4 linked regions of the Homo sapiens genome follow. The protein of the gene in region 1 interacts with the protein of each later gene in a pairwise test. Each region holds a gene or a part of one and is shown in the gene's direction. Other genes may lie near its edges. The genes, in order: EMX2, MEIS1, TLE2 and GTF2A1L.

Region 1 (2,633 bases):
AGAAGAATCACTACGTGGTGGGCGCCGAAAGGAAGCAGCTGGCACACAGCCTCAGCCTCACGGAAACTCAGGTGACTGCGGCCCGGGCGCGAGGAACCCATCTAGGCGTGCGCCCCCTCCCCAAAGCTGGCTCCCAAGCACACCCATGAGCACGGAGCTCTGTGAGGGCCTTCCGCACAGGTCCTGGTAGCTGGTTCCACGCCTGGGCTCGGGATGTATGTCTCAAGGTGCTGGCTTTGTTGGGCTCCAGAAAGGGGCTGTAAGTGCCAATCTGCCCCAGGTTCTGGGGAAACGCGCCGAGTTGTTTCTCTGTCCAGTTGGGCATGTCCTGGCTAAGACATCCCTGCATTTCTGGTGAGACTTTTGATGAGAGTGTGAAGACCCCTGCTGGGGTCCAGGAAGAGGGAGAGCACAGTGGGGTTTCTGGGTGTTTGGAGCTGGAGGCTGGTAAGGACAGGATGTGGGTTAAAGATGAGTTCTGAGCGACTGTGAGCCCACGGCTCACACCGTCGGCTCCAGTGACTTCCCTGAAGGAGATGGGCGATGGGAAGGTAGAGGGCAAGCGTCCTGTGTGTACCCTATATCAGAGAAGTAAAGTTGGGAGGCTGCAGAGAGGGTCTGCCTCAGGGCACAGGCCTTCTGCACAGCAGGGTCCCTGGGCGGGCCTGGCTTGGGTTTATCCCAGGGTGGGGAGGGGGTTTAGGACTACACTAGGCGCTACTGTACACGGAGCCGCAGGGCGGGGTCAAAGTTCCCAGCAAACAGTAACGTTTTTTTGGGCAGACTAAGTTGTAACACTTTTCCTGGGCAGCTCAGAAAGGTCGAGGCTTTTGTTTTAAAACATGTTCCCCACCCCAAAACCGAGGAGGGCCTGGCGGGTTTGTGCGGAGCCCGGCACAAGGCGCGGCCCGGCTGATTTCTCCTGGACAGCCGAGGCGGCGGTGGTCTTTGTCCGCCTCGCTGCCCACGCTGCCTGGAGTCTTTGTGTGCGTGTCAAGCCCCGAGCGCACCGACGCGCGCCTTGGGCCAGCGCCGGGGAGAAATGAACCGTCCTCCCCCTCAATTAGCAAACTCAAAGCAAATTAAATTCAGCCTTGTTCCCGCTCAGCTTTTTTCATGGAGCACTTTGGGCGACTGTGGCTTTCCGGGAGAGCAAGACGGACCGGCCTGCGGCCTCAAAGGAGGGAATGGAATGGATCCCAGGGGTCCAGGGACTGGCACTGGGCTGTGGGGTACTCTTATCCAGATAGAATAGGAGTTGTGGGGGGAGGGTATCAGAGGTGCAGTCACTGCCATCTCCCTTACCTGTACACCACTGCTGTGAAGATTGGACTGTGTTACTGTCTGGTGGCTAAATGAGGACCCACGACTCAGCTTTCCTAGGGGGCCGTGGGATGGCAGCCGACTCCCACCTCATTGCTCCTGAGACCTCTCACAGCCGCTCTGGTGAGGCCGGGCCTCCAGCCCCACCCTGGTGGGAAGTGATGGGACTGGGGTCCGAGGTTGTGTGACCAGCAGCCTGTTCCGGGGCTGTTTAGAAGGAGGGAAGAGGGGGCTTGCTGTCACCTCCCCTTCTCTTAGTTTCTCTTACTTTCCGTGTAACCCACGGTCTTTCAGAAGCTTTCAGTTTTGAACTCATTTTCCTAGCTATAAAGGTACAGCTGGGTTGGTCTGGAGGCCTACACACTCCATGTCCCTCCTGGCCTCCTCCAGCCCCATCCCCTTCCTGCTCACCTGTGAGAGTCCCCCGCACGGAGGATGCAGCTCAGGCAAACCCTGATCGCCTACCCAGGGCCCCCGCCACGAAGAGGAGACGCTATATTTAGGAAACGCCGCCCAGACCAGCAGAAAATAGAAAGCACATTGGGCCCTGAGGGGAGCTGCAGCAGCGGCGGACTGAGGTCTCTCTTGCACTCGCTTGCTGGAGGGAGTTAGGGACATGTCTCTTTTTCTTTTAATCACTTATTATTTTTGTAGGGGCTTCCCATGCTTTGCAAGGCTTTGCTCTCAGCGGGATATAGATGCCCTCTGCAGGGCCAGGAGAGATGGGGCTCAGTGCACTCCGGGCCACAGGGCCCTGGGGAAAGGCTCTTCAGGAAGCCTCAGAAGGGCAGGGAGCTGGGCTTCTGTTCCACCACGCACTAGCGGCCCTGCTCCCTGAGGGCAGGCCTTGGGGAGGCTGGACCTTAGGACTTGCATCTCGGGGGCTGGGTCTTTGCTGAGTCTGGAACTGGAGTCTGGGCTGGGTGAAAGGATCAGGCACTTGATAGAAGGGTGCTCTGAAAGAACTAACGCACCCCATCTGCCTCTCACCCGCAGGTAAAAGTATGGTTTCAGAACCGAAGAACAAAGTTCAAAAGGCAGAAGCTGGAGGAAGAAGGCTCAGATTCGCAACAAAAGAAAAAAGGGACGCACCATATTAACCGGTGGAGAATCGCCACCAAGCAGGCGAGTCCGGAGGAAATAGACGTGACCTCAGATGATTAAAAACATAAACCTAACCCCACAGAAACGGACAACATGGAGCAAAAGAGACAGGGAGAGGTGGAGAAGGAAAAAACCCTACAAAACAAAAACAAACCGCATACACGTTCACCGAGAAAGGGAGAGGGAATCGGAGGGAGCAGCGGAAT
Region 2 (6,120 bases), on another chromosome or scaffold:
GCTCTGATGTTCAGGAAAAGCTACCCTCCTTTGAGTTTCACTTATAAGGGGTCAGTTAGTTTTGTATAATTTAGCAGAGTTTGTCTTGGAAAGCAAAAGAAATGCAGTGTCTTGTAGGACTGCCTAACCTCACGCTGGCAGGGAAATAAAATGAGAAGCCTGTCTAAATTCACGTGCTTTGCGTAGCTGTTCCCATCGTAACTTTTTTTTTTTTTTTTAATTCCCCCTGATGTGAAGGGGCTGTGAAACTAGGCGGGTTTGCTGCAGTGTCCTGGCACGTTTTATTATTGTGATTTTGAATTTCTTCCTCCAGAGACATGCCCGTTTCACCTTCTACCCTCGGGAGAATGCTTCTCTTTCTCTCTTTCTTTCTTCTTTCCTTCTTGCCAAAGGAGCCTGAATTTCTAAACTAGTTGATAGGGACACAAGTTAGGGCAAGATCATTCATCCCAGACGAGTCTCGCTGAGAATTCTGTATTTTTTACTTAAAGCTTTAATTTTAAAATAAGAAAAACTCAGCTTTATAGATGCAAGGCCACCGAATTCCGGGTGGAAGGACCCAGCTGTATTGACCTTATATAAGCTCGGTGCCTTGCCGTTCTCCCATTTGCCCGCCTGGCCTCCTGAACCTTCTTTCTCTCCTGTTTGTCATGCAGTACGACGATCTACCCCATTACGGGGGCATGGATGGAGTAGGCATCCCCTCCACGATGTATGGGGACCCGCATGCAGCCAGGTCCATGCAGCCGGTCCACCACCTGAACCACGGGCCTCCTCTGCACTCGCATCAGTACCCGCACACAGCTCATACCAACGCCATGGCCCCCAGCATGGGCTCCTCTGTCAATGACGCTTTAAAGAGAGATAAAGATGCCATTTATGGGTAGGTACAATGGGCAGCAGGTTAAGTAGTTGAGACTCAACGCTTCCCTCTTTCTCTGTGCCCTTGGTAAGAGGAAAGTCAGAGTTCTCTGGATTGGAGGTACATCTTTGGTGACTTTTCATTCACATTTCATGGATAATTTGGGGAGGTGGCCTGCCATCCCTGAAGCCCTACATCCCCATACACACTCTGTGCACATCCAGTGCCCTGCTCCACCATGGCAGTGCCCGCAAGGGGGTCCCAGATGAGAAGAAGCTGGCTAAAGGGCCCTTGTCCCCTCTCAGACTCCTTCAGCGGGCTGGAGTCCTCCCTCGCTCGATTTCGCCCGAGAGCGTTAGGGGTTTCTAAATGCAGGCGCCTTTGTGTTGTAACGAAACTTTTAGTTTAAGGGAAAATCTCTTTTAAGCCACTGATTGTTCTGACTTGCTGAGTTTACTCAGCAGCCTTATGCTGGCTCTGCCACTGCACAATAAAACCAAAGCAGGACAGTTGCAGGTCAAGCAAGGGGGAACATGTTTTGCATTTAGGGAGTTTGACCACTGAAGTCAAGGAGAGGAGCTTGCTCTGAATTGTTACACACATTAAGAAACTTCTAGATGTTTTAGCACTTTGTGCTCAAAGGCGAAACCTGCAGGATTTAGAAATAAGTAAATTCGGGGTGCTCTTCCTCGGAGGTTGTTTTCTGGCTGCGGTTTATACTGCTTTCTCCTCCGCCATTCGATTAGACCCTGGGCTAGTAGAATCCTTTGAAACTCACTTGTGCCTACTGTGTGCCGATGAATTTGGGAACCTCTTTTTACTTTGCAGAAACTTTTATTTCTATTTATTTATTTTTAAAAAATCAGGACACACTGACCCTCCCTCGCTGGAAAAAAAAATATATATAATCTTTTTATTTTATTTTCTGATCCCTTGTGCGATGGGCTTGTTTAATTCCCACCGTTCTGTCCGCAGAGTTAACTACAAGTGGTTTAGGCTCTGGGACAGAACATTTGGGGAAGCTTTGTAAAGGACCCCAAACTGTTAAATTCCCAGCTGAGCTGTGAGAGCTAATAAAAGACTTGAGATACCTCCTTGGGCATTAGAAGAAGCTTTTCTTTCTTTCTTCTTCTTCTTCTTTTTTTTTTTTTTTTCTTTTTTATGGGCTGAGACAAGCGACATCTAGGCCCCTCGCAATACTAGCTGCTTTGCCACTTCGCAGAGACAAAATGAAAGGCTCTACTGCAGGAACATTTGAAGGAACTTTCTTTGGGGGGCGGTGGGGGCTATCAGCGAAGGGAGGGGAATGTGCGTGGAGCTGAGGAGGAGCCTCCCGGCTCTCCGAGGGCCTTGGGGTTGGGATCCCTAGGTGCAGCCCGTTGACAGTCGGCCCCACGGCCATGGACGTCCTTTCCCCAAGTTAGCTGAGCGCCTGCCACCGAGATCCCCCGAGCCTGGGCTTCGCGCGGCCGCCTAGGAGGAACCCGCAGGAACCAGCCCTCCCCAACTCTCCGCCCGGCGCCTTTCTCCTCCACCGGATCCTGGATGTGCAGTGGAGGGGACGAGGGCTTGTCGGGTGGGAAACTTAATTCAAAATGGCTGCTGGAAACGCTTGGGTTTTATTCGTAGCAAATGTTGCCAATTTCTCCGGCCAGATACGCTAAACCGATCCTCAGATACCGTCCATGGCTCAGGGCCTCCGACTTCAGGGCTCCAGGAGGAAGGGGAGGTGAGCGGTCACCTGGGTCTGGGGGAGGGGGAGGAAAAGGAAAAAAGTAGATGACACAATCGGAGAGGGGGTCTGTTCCTCTTGCTCCTCCAGCTGTTTTTCTTGGGCACCTTTTTCCATTGACTGGGGACTAACCATTATGTTGTTTGTGACTGTTGTATTTTCTTGCAGACACCCCCTCTTCCCTCTCTTAGCACTGATTTTTGAGAAATGTGAATTAGCTACTTGTACCCCCCGCGAGCCGGGGGTGGCGGGCGGGGACGTCTGCTCGTCAGAGTCATTCAATGAAGATATAGCCGTGTTCGCCAAACAGGTCAGCAAAATAGATGTTAAAAAGTAAAAGAAACAAAAAGAGAGCCCCCCCTTCGCCAACACACACGCGCGCGCGCGCGCGCGAACACACACACACACACACACACACGGCACACTTTCAAAAGTAGCCAGCACGTAGTCGGCCTTAAGCCATGCATGTTACCTCCAACCTCAGATTTTCTCTCTGTCTGAGTGTCTGTTTGCAGATAACTTAAAATCACCCATCTGCATCCCCACTCACCCTCCAGAAAGCAAACGTGGAGAGCTCACTCTGCAGAATAAAATCAAGAACACCACGGTTGTAGCTGCTGTGGACTCGGCGGTCTGAGCAGCCTCCCCGAGAGCCGTAGTTGCTAGTAGAAGTAAGATTGAGCTCTGGGCTTGTTTTCAGCTTATTTAATTCACACTGAAATGTTTCTGCGCGGGACGAACTCGGTGTCACCGGGTCCCTCCCGGAGGGTTACTTCCTGCCCCCGACAGTGTAATGAGGCAAGAAACTAGGAAGGCGACCAGATTTCAAATTTTTCTTTCTTTTTTCTCTCCCCTCCCTCTCCCCTCTCCTTCTCACTTGTATTTAGATTCGCGCAGAAAAACCTCTATTTTCTTCTAATCCAGAACTGGATAACTTGGTAAGAGCGGACCCCTATTTCCCTCCCCCGCCCCCGACCCCCTACCTCCCACCTCCAACGCCCTCAGCTTTGCTTTGAGAGCCCTGAGATTTCTAGACCGGTCTTCCCGTGCCTGCAGGTTGGCTGCAAATGTTTCTGTACACGGACAACTGGTCCGGGACAAGATCCCGGGGAAATAAATTCATCTCGAGAGGGGCCGGGCGAGCCAGCGCGGGGAAACGCGAGCTTTTGTTTTTTATGACAGCCGGGCTGCGCAGCTCTAATCAGCGCGGGGATTTATCTCCCGGCCTGTCAGCATGTGTGCTTAAACTTTGCGGACTTCCTAGCCCTCTAAGTCCCATCACGAGGGCAGCCACCGGACAAGAGCCCCCAAACAACCAGTTTGCCTGAAAGGTGTAAGGAAGGCAGCAGAAACTTTGCAATGGGAAAAGCCACAGTTTGAGGGCCATTTGGAATATTTTTCTGTCCACTCCTTCCAAGGACACATGTAGTCCAGTGTTGTGGCCCTTTTGGGGTGGGGTGGGGCCAGTGGGACTGAGAAAGGGGAGAGCCATGGGGGAGGAGAGTGTTTATGATCCTCACTTAGATGCTGTGTTGTTGTTTTAGCTAGTTTTTTTTTTCTTAAGAAATATAAACCTCTAGATGGTACCCAGTTGCTGCTATTAAGTTTTAGTGTTATTGCCATAAATCAAAATAACTCTATTTACTGGTGGGAGGGGGTGGGCTGGAGATGGTAGAGCTGTGGCAGCCAGTTTTCTGCAAGCCAGGAATGGGGTGCTTATTGTTTTTGTATCTTTGCAGATGATTCAAGCCATACAAGTATTAAGGTTTCATCTATTGGAATTAGAGAAGGTAATTTCTCTAGCCTCTTTTCCTTTTACTTACCCCTTACCCCCAAACACACAGGGGGGAGGGTTCCGAATGGCTGAAGTTCAGCCTTCTGATACATTTGCATAAATGTCTTTCTTTCTGGTAATTAGTGTCAAGGCCAATCTTAGCGTCCATTTCTCTTCGCAGTTTAATTACAATTTCAGCCACTAAAACTGGGATCACAAACGCCCTAGCCTTGTGTTCATTCTTAATAACTTGCTGGCTTTGTGTAAATAGTTGCAATTCTGTGCATCCCAGCTGATGTTTCGAATGCTGCTCTGAGGTTGTTTCACAAGTTCATACCTCTGTTGTCTCTTCTCATCCTCTTCCTTCTCTTCTTTGCTACCTCTGAGGGAGAAAAAAGTTTTATTCAGTTGTAGTGAGTTTCTGGAAGACAGTCTTGAGAGCAAGGGCAGATCAGACACAGGGGAGAGGCAGAAGGGGAGAAGGAGGAGGAGCGGGAAGGAGTCTGGAGGAGGTGGTGGGGAGGCACATTAAACGTTTTGCAGAGACAAAGCAGAGTTGATAGTTGTGTCAATTTCTTGAATCTGTGAATCCTGCACACACTCCACCTTCACACTCAAGAAAGGGTGTGGGATAACATGATTTTGCTAGCTGTTCTATAAATCTCAGCAATAAAAACTTAATGCATTGTAATTCAAACTAACATTAAATTGCAAGCACACTGGGGTTTCTTGTGAATTTTTGCATGTCAGTGATGCCTGGGACCTCTAGGAAACCTCTGCACTTACACTTAAATATTTTGAGGCATTCCTTCTCCTTTTTGTAAAAAAAAAAAAAAAAAAAAAAAATCAATTTGATATGTTTTTGTGTGGCTGTATGTTTTCCCATATCAGGAGTACTGGCAACTTGATTTCCTTCCATTTTTTTTTCAAAGAAAGTTTTCTAAAATATACCCCTTAGAGATAAAAACCTTCATTACAAATATAATAAGGACTTGGGTTGTCAGGCATTTATCCTATGCCACCACAGTACAGGTTCTTTGGAGAATATATATGTGCATATATACACACGTATACATTTTTTTCTTAGACACATTAGAAAGGGATTTATGATAAAGTCACTGGATGAAATTAAATAGTTTACCTTAAATGTCACCTACGCAGGTCACCTCTCTAATGACCACAGCCCCAGGAGCAGATGAATTTAACACGGGTGTTGAATATGTTGTAGCCTGTGAATCATCTTGTCACTGTCAATTTTCTGGGATATCTCTATTTTGCAAGAAAAGAAAGTTATTCCTAATTCTGGATGCGTCTGGGGGTCTCTGGAGGACAATTGCCCTGTGTTTCCCCTATTTGGAAGTTTGGATCTCACAAGGGGGGTGGATTGCACTTGTCAATGTCATTTATGCACTCCTGATTATATTCCCATTTTTTTATTTCTGTCATAATGTAGGTACACGAATTATGTGACAATTTCTGCCACCGGTATATTAGCTGTTTGAAAGGGAAAATGCCTATCGATTTGGTGATAGACGATAGAGAAGGAGGATCAAAATCAGACAGTGAAGATATAACAAGATCAGCAAATCTAACTGACCAGGTATGCGCTTTTCAATTTCAACATCCCTGGGAAAAAAAAAAATCTGTATGCATATTGCTTGCTGGGTCACTACCACCTCCTTTTATTATTTGCATATGATTAAGTCCCTTTTAGATACATTTCCATCGAAATGAAAATTTTTGAATAATGTG
Region 3 (6,120 bases), on another chromosome or scaffold:
GAGACGGGGTTTCTCCATGTTGGCCAGGCTGGTCTTGAACTCCTGACCTCAGGTGATCCACCTGCCTCGGCCTCCCAAAGTGCTGGGATTACAGGAGTGAGCCACCTTGCCCGGCCAATAGACCCAAAGATTCTAAAATTGACTTTAGTGGTCCATGCTTAATCCTGAGATCCTGAGACTGGCCAGTGGTTTCTAAAGGGATGAGAGGGGTCCCAAACTTCTGAGCTTCATGGGCTCCTAGATTCTATCAGAATATTAGAATCAATGAGCAGAACCTTGTATTGGGACTTCCCGGTGGCTGGGAAGGAGAAGGGGGTGGGCTGGGAGTGTGGGGTGCCTGGGGTTGCCCACCCTGGCATGCTTTCCTGCATGTGTGGGGGTTCTGTTGGTTCTGATGTGGGCAGGAGGGGGCTTGTCTGCTGAAGCATGGCGTGGTCCCATGGGTCCACGCAATAGACCCCCCTTTATGGGGTGCGGGACACCCTGGGATCCCAGTTCCACCCTCCTGGTGGGAATAGGAGACACAGACTTCGCCAGACACACAGCACACCTGTAACTCAGGCAGAGGCAAAGTCCGTGGCCATTGTATGCCCGCCCCCTTCCCCACCCACACGCCTTCTCGTCTGCTCAGCCTCTTTGGGGCACCTGGGCCCAGACCCTCTCCAGATGAAATCCTTCCCTTGAGTGTGGCGTGCTGAGATCTCCACCTGGAGGCATCCCCAGCTGGTAGATCAGTCCTGGGAAGCGGAGGAGACCAAGAAAGGGGCCTTGCCTGGGACAGACGTGGGCCAAGCCGGGGCTGGAATCTGGGACTCCAGGCGGAGGCCCCTTTCCTTTGTTTCAGCTGAGCCCAGCACCTCTGAGTGTCTGCGTCTGAGTTGGGTGTCTGAGCGTCTGCCTCCTGCAAATCCCTGGCGGGTGTGCGTCTGGCGGGTGGTGTATCTGTGACTCGTAGGACCTCAGCCCTGGTCTTCCCAGCTCCAGGCCACCCTGGGCCTCGCTCAGCTGAGCACGCAGCCTGGTGGGGCTCTGAATCCCACCTCGGCCCATGCCATGCTAGCCTGAGTTCCCTCTGTGCACCTGCGGGCGTCACCTCCCCAACCCTTCGGCTTTGCCAACACCTGGTCCGCCTGGGAGTCCAGAGCTGGGTTGCAAATCTCTACCCCGCTCCAAGCTTCCTCTCATTGCTTCCTGCCAGGCGGAGATTGTGAAGCGTCTGAGCGGTATCTGCGCTCAGATTATCCCCTTCCTGACCCAGGAGGTGAGTGGGCCTGGGGGTGGGGGGAGGAGGGGAAGGGAGCCGGAAGAAGACGGGAGGGGGTAGGTCTGGGCGAGGACGCCCCAGGCACTGATTCTGCCGCGTAGCCTGCAGCACGGATAGAGACCATTTTCACTGCAGTAGTCCCGCAGCCCTGAGGCCAGGCATCCCGCTGGGGCAGGGGCTGCAGGGATGGAGGGAGGTGTTGGCTGAGGGTGAGGACTGGGGGCTGTTTTCCCCCTTGATGGGAAGCAAGGCATAGAGCTGACCCCCTCAAGCCCTGCAAGTTGGCTGCCTGGGTCTGAATCCTGGCTGTGTGGCCTCAGGCAGGACACTTGTCTCTGTTTTTTCAGTAGCGTAGGTGTGAAGTTGAGATGAGCTCATACACCCAGGGTGCTGGAGATGATGGGTACGCTTACTCAGCACCTGATGAAAGTTAACCCTACCGTCTTGCTAGAAGAAGTCACTGAGGGACAAACACTGGGTGATCCACTCCTAGGAGGTCCCAGGGTCGTCAGGTTCACTGAGACAGAAAGCAGAATGGGGGGTGCCAGGGGTTGGGGAGGGGACGGGGAGTGAGAGTTTTATGGGGACAGAAATTCAGTTTGGGAAGATGGGAAAATTCTGGAGATGGTGCTGGGGATGGCTGCACAACCGTGTGTGTGCTTTATGCTGCTGAGCTGTGCACTTACAAATGGTTAAAATGGACTGTAATTCGGCCAGGTGCGGTGGCTCCTGCCTGTAATCCCAGCATTTTGGGAGGCTGAGGCAGGTGGATCACCAGAGGTCAGGAGTTCGAGACCAGCCTGTCCAACATGGTGAAACCCTGTCTCTGCTAAAACTTAAAAAAAAAAATTAGCCGGGCATGGTGGTGTTTGCCTGTAATCCCAGCTACTCGGGAGGCTGAGGCAGGAGAATAGAATTGCTTGAACTCAGGAGGCGGGGGTTGCAGTGAGCAGAGATTGCGCCGCTGCACTCCAGCCTGGGTGAGAGAGTTAGACTCCATCTCAAAAAAAAAAAAAAAAAAAGTTAGCTCTTCTGAGAGTGCCCCAGGTTCCTTTCATCCTCAGTACCTTTGCACAGTCCCTGTTTCTTTTTTCTTTTTCTTTTCTTTTGTGTGTGTGTGTGTGTGTGATGGATTCTTGCTCTGTTACCCAGGCTGGAGTGCAGTGGCATGATCTTGGCTGACTGCAACCTCCACCTCCTGGGTGCAAGCGATTCTCATGCCTCAGCCTCCTGAGTAGCTGGGATTACAGGCGTGCACCACCACGCCCGGCTAATTTTTGTATTTTTAGTAGAGACGGGTCTCCCTATGTTGCCCGGGCTGGTCTCGAACCCCCGGACTCAAGCAATCCGCCCGTGTCAGGCTCCGAGTGTTGGGTTTACAGGTGTGAGCCACTGTACCCAGCCTGCACTGTCCCTGTTTCTGTGTGGTACGTTCTCTCTTCAGAGAGACGTGAAAGATAGTTCTACTTCAGAGTGGATACACTGGGAGGATCCTTGATGCCTTGAGGACCAAACCCAGAGGGGAGATGCTCAGTTTGTTCAGATTCCACTGAGTCTGAGATTTCTGGAAGCTTGGGGTGGGGAGAGGTCCTGTGTAGACACAGAACATAAAGAGCATCTGCAGCGGAAAGTGGGGACGAGGTGGTCTAGAGAAAGGCAAGAGCCGCAAGAAGTTTAGGTAGGCCGAGCCCAGTGGCTCACGCCTGTAATCCCAGCACTTTGGGAGGCCAAGGCGTGCGGGTCATGAGGTCAGGAGTTTGAGACCCACCTGGCCAGTATGGTGAAACCTCATTTCTACTAAAAATACAAAAATTAGCTGGGCTAGTCCCAGCTACTCGGGAGGCTGAGGCAGGAGAATTGCTTGAACCCGGGGGGTGGAGGTTGCAGTGAGCCGAGTTCGCACCATTGCACTCCAGCCTGGGCAACACAGCGAGATTCTGTCTCAAAAAAAAAAAAAAAAGATTAGGTAAAATGACTGTTGAAAGGAATGAGTAAGGCACACATTTCCAGGAATTAGCAAACTGCAGCTCGAGGGCCAGCTCCACCCCTCCACTTGTTTTTGCAAATAAAGTTTTATTGACATAGCCACGCCCACTCATGTACATATCATTTCCAGCAGCTTTCCCATTACAGTGACAGAGTTTGGTAGTTGCAACAGAGACCTCTGGCCTGCAGAGGGAAAATGTTTTCACTCTCTGGCCCTTTCTAGAAAGTCTTCCAACCCATCCTACACACACCCACACACAGGTGCACCCCCATGGGAGCTCTGTATCCGCATCCTGATACCTCCTTGGTGGAGACAGCCCAGATGTCTGTCTTCAGGAGCGTGTATACACAAGCAGCCTCAGAGTGCATACAGTGGAATATACTACTGTTCCGCTATCCTACACGGCAGTCACCAGCCCCGTGTGATCATTTACACTTAGGTTAACTATTAATAATATTTAAATCTATTATTTTTTTCCTTAAAAAAATTTTTTTTTTTTTTGAGACAGAGTCTTGCTCTGTCGCCCGGGCTGGAGTGCAATGGCACGATCTCAGCTCACTGCAATCTCTGCCTCCTGGGTTCAAGCGATTCTTCCACCTCAGCCTCCCGAGTAGTTGGGATTACAGGCACCCACCATCATGCCGGCTAGTTTTTGTATTTTTGTAGATGGGGTGGGGGGGTGGTTTCACCATGTTGGCCAGGCTGGTCTTGAACTACTGACCTCAGGTGATCCATCTGGCTCGGCCTCCCAAAATGCTGGGATTACACGCGTGAGCCACCGCACCTGGCCTAAAAAAATTTTTTTTTACAAAAATTAGCTGGGTGTGGTGGCAGGTGCCTGTAATCCCAGCTACTCGGGAGGCTGAGGCAGGAGAATTGCTTGAACCTGGGAGGCGGAGGTTAGCGTGAACCGAGATCACGCCACTGCATTCCAGCCTGTGCGACAGAGTGAGACTCCGGCTTAAATAAGTATATATGTATAATGTAACAGAGAGGGAGTCTCACCATGTTGCCCAGGCTGGTCTCAAACTCCTGGACTAGCGTAATCCTCCCACTCCAGCATCCTAAAGTACTGGGATTACAGGCATGAGCCACTGCGCCCGACCTGAAATCTATTAAGTTAATTTTATATTTAAATTTATATTTAGGCTGGGCGCAGTGGCTCACACCTGTAATACCAGCACTTTGGGAGGCTGAGGGGGGCAAATCACTTGAGATCAGGAGTTCAAGACCAGCCTGGTCAACATGGTGAAACCCCGTCTCTACTAAAAGTATGAAAATTAGTTGGGTGTGGTGGTGCGCACCTGTAATCTCACCTACTTGGGAGGCTGAGGCAGGAGAATTGTTTGAACCTGGGAGGCGGAGGTTGCAGTGAGCCAAGAGCATGCCATTGCACTCCAGCCTGGGCAACAGAGTGAGACTACGTCTCAAAAAAGTAAAAATAAAAATAAGCCTATTAAATTTATTTTATATTTAAACTTGTATTCACTTAAATTTAATAAAATTAATCATTCTATTCATCAGTTGCACCAGCCACATGTCAAATGCCTGGTGGCCACACACATGGCCAGTGGCTTCTGTGTGGAACAGCAAAAATACAACATTTTCTTTCTTTCTTTTTTTTTTGAGACTGAGTCTCGCTCTGTCACCCAGGCGGGAGTGCATGGCACGATCTTGGCTCACTGCAATCTCTAACTCCCGGGTTCAAGTGTTTCTCCTGCCCCAGCCTCCCGAGTAGCTGGGATTACAGGTGCATGCCACCATGCCTGACTAATTTTTGTATTTTTAGTAGAGATGGGGTTTCACCATCTTGGTCAGGTTGGTCTCGAACTCCTGATCTCGTGATCCACCTGCCTCAGCCTCCCAAAGTGCTGGGATTACAGGTGTGAGTCACCACGCTCAGCACCCCCCCCCCTTTTTTTTTTTTTTTTTTTTTTTTTTGAGACTGGGTCTCACTCTGTCTCCCAGGCTGGAGTGCAGTGGTGCAATCTTGGCTCACTGCAACCTGTGCCTCTTGGGTTCAAGTGATTCTCCTGTGTCAGCCTCACGAGTAGCTGGTATTATAGGCACCCGCCGCCACGTCTGGCTAATTTTTTTTGTATTTTTAGTAGAGATAGGGTTTCACCATGTTGGCCAGGCTGGTCTTGAACTCCTGACCTCAAGTGATCCACCTGCCTTGGCCTCCCAAAGTGCTGTGATTACAGGCATGAGCCGCCGCGCCCGGCTCAGATATAACATTTTCTCGCAGCAGAGTCCCACAGCTCTGAAAGCTGAATATGCTGCCGCCACCCACCACATCATGGAAGAAGCTTAAAATGTTATGCTGAGAGGCCAGATGCCAAAGAGAACTCAGAGAATGAGCCCACAACGTAGTTGAAAACGGACAAATCCACGCAGGTTTAGGAAGGCGATCGTAGGAGGCAGAATTATACAGAAAAACAAAGAAATTATTGTCATGAAGGTGGAGGAGGGAGGGTGTTCTGATGGCAGGGAGTGTAGGGGGCCCCTGGAGTCTGGTACTTTCTGTTCCTTAACCTAGGAGAAGGGTCCATGGTGCCGATTTATCACAGTGTTTTTTTTTTCTTGGGGGTAGTTTTACCACCAGGAGACGTCTGTGGTTGTCACAACTGGGGGTGCCCCTGGCATGGAGTGGGTGGAGGCCAGGGATGCTGCTCGGCTCCTTGTAGTGCCTGGAACAGCCCCGCCCCAGAGAACAATCCAGCCCCAGATGTCTTTGGTTCTTCGATGCTCCAAAGGAGAGACTGTGATTTGTAATATATATATATTTTTTCTTGAGACAGAGTCTCGCTCTGTCACCCAGGCTGGAATGCATTGGCACGATCTCGGCTCACTGCAACCTCCACCTCCC
Region 4 (6,120 bases), on another chromosome or scaffold:
TGGTGGTGTGTGCCTGTAGTCCTGGCTACTTGAGAGGCTGAGGCAAAAGGATCACTTGAGCCTCGTAATTGGAGATTACAGTGAGTTATGATTGCACCACTGCTCTTCAGCCTGGGCAACAGAATGAAACCCTGTCTCTTAAAAATAAAAATGCAAAACATTTATAAATAAAATAAAGAGTTCTGTAGTCTTATACTCCAAGAATAAATGTTTTAACTCTTTGATGTTTATTCATCCAGACTTCTTTCATGAAAGCTATATTAGTTTTTAGGATAAAAAGTAGGGATACTCTTTTTACTGTTTCTGTAATTTCTGTTTTCTAATTTAGTAATATAGATGGACTGCTTTCAATTTCAGTTAGTACAAATTGACCTTCGTGGATGCAGCACAGTTTAATTAACAAACTTTTGTTGGTGAACATTTAAATTATTTCCAGCATTTTTCTAATATAGTATTCTATTGATTATGCTTGTGTATATGTCTGTGTGTTTCTGTGATAATCAGGATAAATTTCTAAAAGTAGAGTTCATGGGTCAAAGGTCATTTGTATTTTCATTTTTGGTATATATATTGCAAAAATTATCCTCCAAAAGGGTTGTACCAATATACATTCATACAAACAGTAGTTTGAGAGAACCAATTTTTATCACATTCTCAACAACACTGGATGTTATCAGTCTTTCAAATTTTTGCAGGTCTGAGAACCAATGGCCCTGCAAAGCTATGTCTTGGGCAAGTTTTTTGAGTTAATGTTTATACTGTTCATTAGGACTTACTAGCTTCATTGCTAATAACTGTAGAATAGGATTCCTCTTGATCCTTAATGGGATGATCGATATTGAAAACTATTTTATTCAAAGAACTCAGCCCTAATATTAAATGTTAAGTATTGTCAAACTATTGTCCAGAATCAGATTTTTTGACTCCCTGTGAGATCAGGGAAAAAAAGATACAAGTAAAGTCCTTTTCTAACTTTCTAATATAAATTTCTTATATCTAGGGCACTTCAAACTCCAGTGCAAACTTTACTTTTCCTGGTTATCCCATTCATGTACCAGCAGGTGTGACACTACAGACTGTATCTGGTGAGAGTATATTCTAAGAATCTTTTTGTTTTCAGCATTGGTACTATTTTTTGGACATTAAGCTTCATGATTTTTAAATAAACTATATACCAGAAGTTATAAGAACTTTTAATAAAATTGATTTTAAAAGTAATGATAAATGGTGGTTTTGATTGTTATAGAGACAATCTACCACAAAAGGCACTGTACTAGGCCTGTCCTATATTTGATTCCCAGTTCTCTTTCCCAACATTGTATAGGGGTTCTTTGTATATATTTTTTCTAATTCAAGTCAGTTATCTAAATTTTAACAAATACAAAATAAAATAACTTACCTGCATTCCTGCTAGCTCTAATTACGGATTAAAGATTAGGATGATCAACCTTTGCCCCCTTTCTTATTAGGGATTGCATGGTCTGATAGGACATCCAATAGTTTGGAGGTTAACCGGTTTCTGCTTTTCCGAGCACCATCTCTTGATTTTGAAGAGGATCATACCTCTTCTTTGGGTTGTTGTAAAGTTTAAGTAAAGCACCTAACTCAACACTCAAAAATAAGTCCTTTTTTTTGAGATGGAGTCTCGCTCTGTCGCCCACGCTGTAGTGCAGTGGCGCAATCTCTGCTCACTGCAAGCTCCGCCTCCTGGGTTCACGCCATTCTCCTGCCTCAGCCTCCCAAGTAGCTGGGACTACAGGCGCCGGCCACCACGCCCGGCTAATTTTTTGTATTTTTAGTAGAGACAGGGTTTCACCGTTTTAGCCAGGAGGGTCTTGATCTCCTGACCTCGTGATCCACCTGCCTTGGCCTCCCAAAGTGCTGGGATTACAGGCATGAGCCACCGCGCCTGGCCTTTTTTTTTTTTTCTTTTATAGTGTTATTTTAGAGGAAGAAAGGAGAAGAAATTTGATTACTTTTGAAATCATTAAACTCTCTTTTGGATAGCATTGTCTTGCTATATGGCATTTTAAATATATGAAGTATATTTTACATGATTATGTTTGTTAAAATCCAGTTTTTTGGCTGATAACATTAATTTATCAAACAATGGAAGAGGTTCATGGATTAAATATTGGTGTCCTTTATGTATCTCAAAGTGTGCCATAAAAGCAATTGTGGGAAAAGTCTGGAATTAAAGCAAAACATATGTAATTAAAAAAATAAGAATTTATATATTGATTGTAGAAATCCAAAAATGTCTGAAGAATAAAAGAAAAACCCCTAGAGATAACCACCATTAACATATTGGTGTATTTTTTTCCAGCCTTTGTGGATGAGATTTTTTTTTTTTTTTGTGGTGGTTGTCAAAGGAAATTTTAATTCTATTATACTTACAATTTTGCTTTCTCCTTTTTAAGGTCACCTTTATAAAGTCAATGTACCAATTATGGTGACAGAGACTTCTGGAAGAGCAGGTATTCTTCAGCATCCAATTCAGCAAGTATTTCAACAGCTTGGCCAGCCTTCAGTAATACAAACTAGTGTTCCACAATTGAATCCATGGTCTCTTCAAGCAACTACTGAAAAATCACAGAGAATTGAAACCGTGCTACAGCAACCCGCAATTCTACCTTCTGGGCCAGTAGATAGGAAACACTTAGAAAATGCCACCAGTGATATACTTGTATCTCCTGGAAATGAGCATAAAATCGTGCCTGAAGCTTTGTTGTGTCATCAGGAAAGTTCTCACTATATCAGTCTTCCAGGTGTTGTATTTTCTCCACAGGTCTCTCAAACAAATTCTAATGTGGAGTCAGTGCTCAGTGGTTCAGCTAGCATGGCTCAAAATCTGCATGATGAGTCCCTCTCCACAAGCCCTCATGGGGCTCTCCACCAGCACGTGACTGATATTCAGCTTCATATTCTTAAAAATAGGATGTATGGATGTGATTCTGTAAAGCAACCAAGAAATATAGAGGAACCCAGCAACATACCTGTATCAGAGAAGGTATAGTTCTGTGTCCAACTTCTTGGTATCAGGGGACAGATAGTGGCCAGTAACTGGATATCCTGAATATTTTCAAGCTGTAATGTTAATCAGAATTATATATATTTTGTTTTTTTCTTTAGAAGATTATTTCTTTTTTCTAGTGATTTAAAAAAATTTTTAATTGTGATAAAATACACGTAACATAAAGTTTACCAACTTAACCATTTTTAAGTGTACAGATCAGTAGTGTTATATACATTCACATGTGGTACAACCAAGAAGATTCTTTCTTTATTGTTGTTTTTAGTATAACTGTCAGTCCTTGAAATATTCATGCTTAGCATTTCTAAATTTTTCATTTCAATAAATGAATTATAATACTTCTTCAGAGAAAATGCGTTTGTTTTAAAAGGTAATCTGTTTACCAGTCTCTTATACTGGGAAACTTATTTTATGTCTGCAGATAAAAATTAAAAGACCCAGAAATCCAGACCAGTAGTTTGTGGAATGTTTTGAGATAATTAATTATCAAATGTAATATACAAAAGAAGCCCACAAAGTTTTTTTTTTCCTGCTCTACCTAATTTTTCTGAATTCCTATATGGAAACTTTTCCCTACATGAGGGATTATGTTGCTAGTAATTTTGTTTCTCCCTGCCTACTAAAATACTAGTTTTACTTAATTTCTTTTGGTATTGAAACCACTAAAAATTAGCTTCTAGTTAACTTTTGATATTGAAAATAGGTCTGAATTTTTAATTTTCAAGGAATTCATAGTAATGGCAGAAAGACTCATGGAGAATTTTGGATTATAAAAATTAAAAAAATTGCATTCTTTTTACAAATATAAAATACATCTTGTGGCTAATTCTATTTACACAATTTAGGACATGTGAAAAATACTTAAAGGTTTTTGCTCCAGCTAGTGGTTTAGCCATCATCTAGACCCACTGTACAAATCTGTAGCAATGGATAGTTAAGCACAACCTTAATATTTTATCTTCATGATATTTAAATTTTGCTAGTTAGGGAAAGACATAGGGCATAGTGAAAGGCCAGGAACAAAGAAAATGACAATCAGAAACTATTTGGCCTGTTTTAGAATGTTTCAGATATTTATTGAAACCTGTTCAAGATCTCTGAGCAAATCTGTTTTTAGTTTTTCTATAAGTGTTCATATTAAAATGTTTTATTGAGGTTTTTTTTACGTTTTTTAACATAACATATAACACTTAGTAAATAAATGTAGGTTAAACTAATAAGTATGAAACATTTGATTTTGAGGTAAAACTAACTACAAATGTAAAATGTTTGTTTTCATCACTACTACTTTTGGAGGCACTTTTTACCTGGATTCTGTGTGAATTTTGCAGATGTTTGGTGTGATGAGTCAAGGACTTATTCTACTGTTATGTATTGTATGTCATCATGTACTTTTTCTGATATGGGGAAATAGATTAGTTAAGGGATATTAATCAAGGATTGATTGGGGGTAGTGGTTGAGAACATAAGCTTTGGAACCACAGTAGGTTCAAATTCTAGGTTCACTACTTGCAAGCAAACTATATAACATTACTCCCTGAAATTCAATTTTAGTCTTTAAATTGGCCCCTAATACCAATCTTGTAATTTTGAGAATTATCAGAGATAATATATATGAAGTATTTAAAGCTTCTGGCACCATAGTAAGCTTTAGATTAGTGCTATTATGCTCTATGAGCTTGTAATATATTGGGTAACTTTTCATGTAACTTGTTTGTTAGTTTTAAAAAAGGTCTATGTCTAACACACAAAATCCAAACGTACAAGAGTATATGTAAAATGCTTATTTATTTATTGTAAGTTACCTTTAAGATAGTAAGCAGTTTGGTAGGTTTATGCTGAACTAATTTTCAAAGACTTTACAAGTAGTTTTTCTTTTTATAAGTAACTTAAAGCAAGTTATAATCAACTATACTTGTTTACTTTTCCTGTGTTGTAAACTACTGGAGAGCTTATGGATCTATAGGTTTAAGAGGTAAGGATCTATGTTGTTTGAACATTCTGTTTCACAAAATATATTCTTGATAGCTTTTAATTCTGCCCCTTGTAATTTCTGTTCTATTTTCTTTGTCTGAATTTGACTCTTCTAGGTACTTTAAAAATGGAATCATACAATATTTGCCCTTTTGTGACTGTCTTATTTCACTTAGTATAATGTTTTCAAGGTTAGTCGATATCGTAGCATGTGTCAGAATTTCATTCCTTTTTAAGGCTGAATCATGTGAGTTTGACAATTTTTAAATTTTGTAAATATTCCTGGAATCTGTTCCTTCATCTCCACTCCTAGTGCCATTGCCCTAATTGTTTCTCATGTGGGATAATTTTATCTAACTAATTTATCAGTGTGTAGTCTCTTCTACCTCTTACTCTGCTCCTGCCAATCCATCCATCCTAGAGGTCAAAGGCCTAAGCTTCAGGGATCAGAATTGTTTTGAATCCCTTCTCTATTCCTTAATAATTGTATGACTTAGAGAAGTTACTCATTTGTAAAATAAAGATAATAGTATCTACCATGTAATTGTGGTAGGATTAGTTAAGAAAATTAATGTAAAGTGCTCAGCAGCACACTGGCACCGTGGTAAATGCTCAGTGCATGTTAGCACTCTCTTCCTGGTGGCTTCCAGAGATCTGTCCCAAATGCAGCCTGGTTGTGTCTTTTCTCCACTTAACACATCACCGACTGCCCTTCACCTATAATAAATAAACTTCAGGCACCTTAATATACATATACAAAGCATATTACGCGTTCTTTCTCTGCCAAAGTTTCCTATTTACTCTTCCTTCCTCACATGAATATACTTTACTGGGAACACCAAACCGTGAGTGATTCTTGGTTTTCAACCTTGTTATTTCCTACTTCTCTTTTTGCTTTTTGTTATCCCCTCTATTTGATGCCTGGAGTTTCTTCCCACCATCCTTTCCTCTGGTTAATTCCTGCTTATTCATTACTTCCTCCAGAAATCTTCAGTACTTCTCCACCTAATTTTTCCTTCATTATTAAATTGGATGTAGCTCTTCTGTTTTGTCACCTGAAGTATGTCTGTCATAATGTAGTTCAAAGATACATTGATATGTTCTCTTTGCAT

The links.
Region 2: the proteins of EMX2 (region 1) and MEIS1 interact in a two-hybrid assay, tested with the Homo sapiens proteins (one large-scale study listed by BioGRID and IntAct).
Region 3: the proteins of EMX2 (region 1) and TLE2 interact in a two-hybrid assay, tested with the Homo sapiens proteins (one large-scale study listed by BioGRID and IntAct).
Region 4: the proteins of EMX2 (region 1) and GTF2A1L interact in a two-hybrid assay, tested with the Homo sapiens proteins (one large-scale study listed by BioGRID and IntAct).

The regions. Positions count from the first base shown.
Region 1 is NC_000010.11:117,545,746-117,548,378, forward strand, and holds part of EMX2 (homeobox protein EMX2), read left to right. Parts: coding exon 1-71; intron 72-2,319; coding exon 2,320-2,487; 3' UTR 2,488-2,633. UniProt on the Homo sapiens protein: Transcription factor, which in cooperation with EMX1, acts to generate the boundary between the roof and archipallium in the developing brain. May function in combination with OTX1/2 to specify cell fates in the developing central nervous system.
Region 2 is NC_000002.12:66,437,081-66,443,200, forward strand, and holds part of MEIS1 (homeobox protein Meis1), read left to right. Parts: intron 1-656; coding exon 657-883; intron 884-2,006; exon of another isoform or gene 2,007-2,609; intron 2,610-2,762; coding exon 2,763-2,904; intron 2,905-3,144; exon of another isoform or gene 3,145-3,250; intron 3,251-3,481; coding exon 3,482-3,532; intron 3,533-4,333; coding exon 4,334-4,384; intron 4,385-5,821; coding exon 5,822-5,968; intron 5,969-6,120. UniProt on the Homo sapiens protein: Acts as a transcriptional regulator of PAX6. Acts as a transcriptional activator of PF4 in complex with PBX1 or PBX2. Required for hematopoiesis, megakaryocyte lineage development and vascular patterning.
Region 3 is NC_000019.10:3,020,161-3,026,280, reverse strand, and holds part of TLE2 (transducin-like enhancer protein 2), read left to right. Parts: intron 1-1,198; coding exon 1,199-1,261; intron 1,262-6,120.
Region 4 is NC_000002.12:48,644,033-48,650,152, forward strand, and holds part of GTF2A1L (TFIIA-alpha and beta-like factor), read left to right. Parts: intron 1-1,000; coding exon 1,001-1,085; intron 1,086-2,420; coding exon 2,421-3,010; intron 3,011-6,120. Other genes in the region: STON1-GTF2A1L protein, read left to right, coding at 1,001-1,085, 2,421-3,010. UniProt on the Homo sapiens protein: May function as a testis specific transcription factor. Binds DNA in conjunction with GTF2A2 and TBP (the TATA-binding protein) and together with GTF2A2, allows mRNA transcription.